Regions from separate parts of the Homo sapiens genome. Here region 1 is linked to region 2. The links come from fine-mapping of genetic effects on gene expression. A gene starts in region 2. The other region holds a variant in brackets. All regions are shown on one strand. Distances are from middle to middle.

The links. PIP is the estimated chance that this variant, and not a neighbour inherited with it, causes the effect. A credible set is the group of variants that fine-mapping cannot tell apart.
Region 1: its variant is the best candidate, but not a certain one, in a credible set for the expression of XRCC4 in testis (GTEx, PIP 0.62).

The regions. Positions count from the first base shown.
Region 1 is chr5:83,125,887-83,128,803 of GRCh38, forward strand. All of the region lies in intron 3 of XRCC4 (X-ray repair cross complementing 4), which reads left to right. Among named protein-coding and RNA genes, the nearest start is that of XRCC4, 50 kb to the left of the region's middle. The variant G/A (reference allele first, on the strand shown) is at 1,303.
Region 2 is chr5:83,075,996-83,078,912 of GRCh38, forward strand. It overlaps XRCC4 (X-ray repair cross complementing 4), which reads left to right and starts at 1,552. Exons shown (of 8, transcript NM_003401.5): 1 at 1,552-1,620. It overlaps TMEM167A (transmembrane protein 167A), which reads right to left and starts at 1,399. Exons shown (of 4, transcript NM_174909.5): 1 at 1,326-1,399. The coding sequence starts at 1,328. RefSeq lists enhancers at 515-1,480, 1,137-1,406, 1,481-2,446 and a silencer at 1,467-1,556.

The DNA.
Region 1 (2,917 bases), 50 kb after region 2:
ACAGGAGAATTGCTTCTACCTGGGAGGCAGAGGTTGCAGTAAGCTGAGATTGTGCCATTGCACTCTAGCCTGGGCAAAAAGAGTGAAACTCCATCTCATCAAAAAAAAAAAAAAAAAAAAAAATTGAGTTACGTGAATCTTCCAACTTTATTCTTTTGAAAAATTTTATTTTAGATAATTTACTTACTTTGCCTTTCCACATACACTTTTAAAATCAGTTTTACTCTATTTATTTAAAAAAATTGAGTCATAGAGTTTATCAACATGGTATGTCTATATAGGTTTACTTTGAAATCTTGCATCAGAATTTTGTAGTTTTTAGCATACAGATCCTATACATGTTTTGTTAGATTTATGCCTAAGTATTTCAGTCTTTTTGGCACTGTTATAAGTGGTATTATATTTTTAATTTGAGTTTACAGTGGCTCATTATGAGCATCTATTAATAGAAATTCAACTGACTTCTTTTGTGTTAACCGTATATTCTCCAAACTTTCTAAATTCCCTTATTTGTTCTAGGTGGTTTTTTGTTGTTATTGTTGTTTGCTTTTAAGATTCTTTGAGAATTTTTTCTGTAAACAGTGATGTTATCTGCAAATAGATGCAGTTTAAAGGCTGTTGCAGAGAGCTTCAAGGCCCAGGCAGAGACTTGCTATGGGGATGGGGCTGCCACAGAGCCCCCACAAAGTCAATGCCCAGGGGAACTGTGGGGTATAAGCTGCTACTGAGAGCCCCCTTCTCCACTACTGCAATGCCTGGTAGAGCTGTGGGAAGAAGGCCACCTGAATACTCCAGAACTAAGAGCCACGGTATGCAGTGCCAGCCTGGCAAAGCTTACAAGCATAGGTTTTAAATGTGTGAGAGCTGTAATGTGGGCTGTGCCAGCAAAGCCATGGGGGCAGGAATGTCCAAATCTTAGAGACTCAATCCTTCCAACGTATCTGGAAGGTGGGACATGGAACCACATAAGATTATTCTCCAGCCTTATGGTCTAACATTGTATGCCTTGTTGGGCTTTAGACATTTCTGGGACTTGCAACTCCCTTCTTTTTTCCTGTTTCTCTTTTTGGAATAGAAATACCTGTCTTACGCCTGCATTGTGTTTTAGAGCGACAAAACTTACCTGTTTGATTTTACAGGGAAATTTGCTTAAGGATTAATTGTTCCTTGAGTCTCACCCATATCTGATTTAGATGAGACTCTGGACTTTAGACTTTTGTGTTGCTGCTGAAATGAGTTAAGACTTTTGGGGCTACTGGGATGGAATGGATGTATTTTGTGTGTTATAAGGACATGAATTTG[G/A]GGGGCTAGGGGTGGAATACTATGGTCTGAATATGTCTCCCAAAATTTGTGTGTGGAAAACTTAACCCCTGATATGGTTTGGCTATTTCCCCACCCAAATCTCATCTTGAATTGTAGCTCCCATAATTTTCACATCTTGTGGGAGGGACCTGGTAGATGATAATTGAATTATGGGGGCAGTTTCCCACATACTGTTTTGTGGTAGTAAGTCTCACGAGATCTGATGCTTTTATAAGGTGATACCCTTTTCACTTGGTTCTCATTCTCTCTTGCCTGCCGCCATGTAAGATGTGCCTTTCACCTTCTGCCATGATTCTGGGGCCTTCACAGCTACGTGGAGCTGTGAGTCCATTAAACCGTTTTTGTTTTTGTTTTTTTTTAAATAAATTACCCAGTCTTGGGTATGTCTTTATCAGCAGTATGAAAACGGACTAATACCATCCCCAATTCAACAGTGTGAGGAAATGGGGCCTAATGGTGCATGATCAGGTCTGGAGCAATTTATTCCTCCATATAGATCCAGATTTCCATGTAATAATATTTTTCTTCTGTTTGAAGGACTTCATTTAATATTCCTTATCATGTGAGTCTGCTTAGGATGAATTCTATCGGATTTTATGTATCTTCCAAAGTCTGTACTTTGTCTTTCTTTTTAAAAGTTATTTTCACTGGGTAGAGAATTCTAAGTTGACTTTTTTTTTTTTTTTCAGTACTTTAAGAGCATTGCTCTGCCTTCTGGCTAGTTTTGTTAGTTTGTTTGTTTGTTTGCTGAGAAGTCATCTGTCATTTATTTATTTATTTATTTTTATTATACTTTAAGTTCTAGGTTACATATGCAGGTTTTTTACATATGTATACATGTGCCATGTTGCTGTGCTGCACCCATTAACTCCTCATTTACATTAGGTATATCTCCTAATGCTATCCGTCCACCCTCCTGCCACCCCACGACAGGCCCCAGTGTGTGATGTTCCCCATCCTCTGTCCAAGTGTTCTCATTGTTCAGTTCCCACCTATGAGTGAGAACATGTGGTGCTTGGTTTTCTGTCCTTGCAATAGTTTGCTGAGAATGATGGTTTCCAGCTTCATCCATGTCCCTACGAAGGATATGAACTCATCCTTTTTAATGGCTACATAGTATTCCATGGTGTATATGTGCCACATTTTCTTAATCCAGTCTATCATTGATGGACATTTGGGTTGGTTCCAAGTCTTTGCTATTGTGAATAATGCCGCAATAAACATACATGTGCATGTGTCTTTATAGCAGCATGATTTATAATCCTTTGGGTATATACCCAGTAATGGGATGGCTGGGTCAAATGGTATTTCTAGTTCTAGATCCTTGAGGAATCACCACACTGTCTTCCACAATGGTTGAACTAGTTTAAAGTCCCACCAACAGTGTAAAAGTGTTCCTAATTCTCCAGATCTTCTCCAGCACCTGTTGTTTCCTGACTTTTTAATGATCGCCATTCTAACTGGTGTAAGATGATATCTCATTGTGGTTTTGATTTGCATTTCTCTGATGGCCAGTGATGATGAGCATTTTTTCATGTGTTTTTGGGCTGCATAAATGTCTTCTTTTGAGAAGTGTCTGTTCATATCCTTTGCC
Region 2 (2,917 bases):
TTTATGTACTTATATTTATAAGAAACAAATCACTAAGTCTTATTTCATCCTTAGTTATGTTGTGTTTCTATCGATAACAGCATGAAGATTTCGGGGACCTGGACATTAAAATAAGTTTGAGTACTGGCTTTACAATCTACTAGGTGTGATCCGAGGCAAGTCAGTCTCTTCATGTTTCACTTCTTTCACTTGTAAACATCTATTCAGAAGTTGCTGTGAACTTGATATTTCCATGCTTATAAACTGATTTTTTGAAAAGAGCCTGGTACATAGGACGTGATAATAAATGAAAGCATTTGCTACTTTTGGAAAAACAAGCATGACAAGATAGTTTATATACTGTTGATCTTAAGCACAGTATATGCATCTTATTTTTAGCTAGTCTGACAGTGAGATAATAAAAAGAGTTATCTTTGACTTGCACTACGAGTAGAAGAATTCAACTTCAGTTTCTAGAAAGATGTATAAGAATTAAGAGTGGCAGTCTTCCTAGTCTCAACTGCCATCTTCCCACCAGGTGGTAAATTCGTCCAGAGAAGAAAATGAATTATTGCTATATGGGATTCTGCAGCAACTTCTGTGAACATAGGCTCATAATTTTTCACCATGGAGACTCAAGCTTTTTGGAGTCATAGTTGTTTTTGGGTCTATTTGCAGGCATGCATCCTTTGTCCAGAAATATACATAACATTTGGCACATGGACCTGGAGGTAAAAGAGGAGGAAGGCCTGAGGCTAGACACCACTCCAATAAGTACATTAAGCTCCTAGAAGGGCAATCCACCTTTGCAGAGAACTCTTAACTATTAAAACCTATAGCTTGTAAAGCAGCATTTTCAAAGTTAAGAGAAGAAGGTGGAAGGGTCTTGAGAGGCTACTGACTAAACAGATGAAAATGAAGGTATGGAGTTTGGTGCCAAAAGAAACTCCCCCCAAAAATCAAACAATAACACCAGAGTAAAGCCCCTAGGGCGAGATAAGGAGTTGCAACAAAACAAGCGGAAACTCGAGAAGCGCTAATGCTTCAAAGGGTCAATGACCACACATAATCTACGTAGCCAACGTGTTAAAACACACCAACGCATTTTTTTTTCCTAAACAAAGTAGGAAAGCGGACTTTGCATGAGGGGCGGGCTGCCGACCCAGCAGTCTTCCTCGGACAGTCCGTCCTGATTCTCTCTGGTTGGCCGTGGAGGGACCACATGGCTCCAAGGCCTCTCAGCTCCGGGCCCACACACCCCGGGCTGCCGCACAAACTCCAGCCCTAGTCTAGATCCACAACCCCTTCTCGAAGATCAACCGCGACCTGGGAGCCCCACTTCTTACCATAGCGAGGCCGGCGATGCCGCAGCCACATCACCCTTCCGGGGCTCAGGCGGAAGAGGCTGCATGTCCCGTCTGCCCTTCTCGCCCTCTCCAGCCGTCCGGTTGGGCTTGTCACGGCACCGCCTACCAAGACGGGCGGTTAAGACACTAGGATAGGCTCCTCTCCACCGGAAAAGGCGGGATTTAGATCACGTCCCGCAGGCCGGCGGAAGTAGCTGATACTCTCATTGGTTGCAAAACCTTGATCTGTGAAAGCGGGCGTTTTGGAAGATACCGGAAGTAGAGTCACGGAGAGGTAGGATCCGGAAGTGGGGCTGCCTCTTTAAATAACAAAAATCTGAGGTTCTGTTCTTTTTATCTTTTTGCTTTCTTTTTAAAAAAGTTCCCTGCTACTTACCCCTAGAACTCCACAATGCGAGAATCCCCCTCAATTTGTGAGCTCCCGCGACTTCCTCTTGTGGGCTTTTGGGGATGCTAGGGTTCTCGGCATTATCCTCAGGGTGCGACCTGTTCACCCCCTTTTCAGTTTCTCCGTTTGCATCTGAGGGATTCTTGGGAATGCGAAGCACTTTTGAAATGCTCTGTGTTGGTTGTGGGATTGGGAGGACGGTTGAATCCAGAGGGTAGTGTTGAGTAGGCTGTTTGAGCATTTCCCCAGCACTGGCCTGTCCTTTCAATCCCCAGATATTGGTAAACTGTGGGTTCCAACCAGGCATCGAGGCTGAAACGTACTAGGCAATTTGAGGTCAGGAAAGAACTTTCTGTGGTAACCAATGGGAAGGAACTGCCGTTTGCGGACTGCAGCGATTGATTAGGTACTTTAAAGAGATCAACTGGCAAGACAAATGACAAGGCAACTTTTAATCAGTAGTAGTATTTAGCTTTTTCTGATTTTAATTATCCCATTAGGTGAGGTTCTACTACACACACACGTTTTTCTTTCTGCATTTTATCGATGGAGAAACAGGCGCTTTGACATGTTTGAATTTGCGTAGTTCTTGGAATTCTAATAAAGTATTAGAAATGAGAGTTTTTCACTCTTTGCCCCCTTATGGCAAGCTTTTGGTTCTAAATGTGTGGTGTATTTTTTCTCAGGCAGGAGAGAGTTCTTTTCAGAATGTTTTCAATTTTTTATGGACTTAGAAGGTGGATAGAGAGAAAGAGAGAAGGTAACTCACGTGAGATTTTGGTTTATGAACTGTATTCGGCCTATGAGACCCTTTTGTATTTAGGGCAACACAATGATTAGAAGATTTGGGATTCTGCTATTTGTGTTTACATTGTTCACTAGGGCACACAAAGGTTTTGTTTTAAACTATAACTAACTTGATATTTGAGTCTGTTATATTGAATTGTCAAGAGTTGGTCAAATACACAAATTAGCAAGTATTTACTGGGTGCCTGCTTTATTCATGGATCTTCAGATTGCAGCATAGGAACAAAGATGGTCTGTTCCTTTAAGGAATTTAATAAGGTTGGGGGAGAGGGGAATAAGAAAGGTATTTAAAAGATACAGTACTCTCCACCTAAGGATAAAAAAAGTCTTTTAATGTTCTGTCTTGTAATTCCTTTATATTATACCTTTTAGGTCT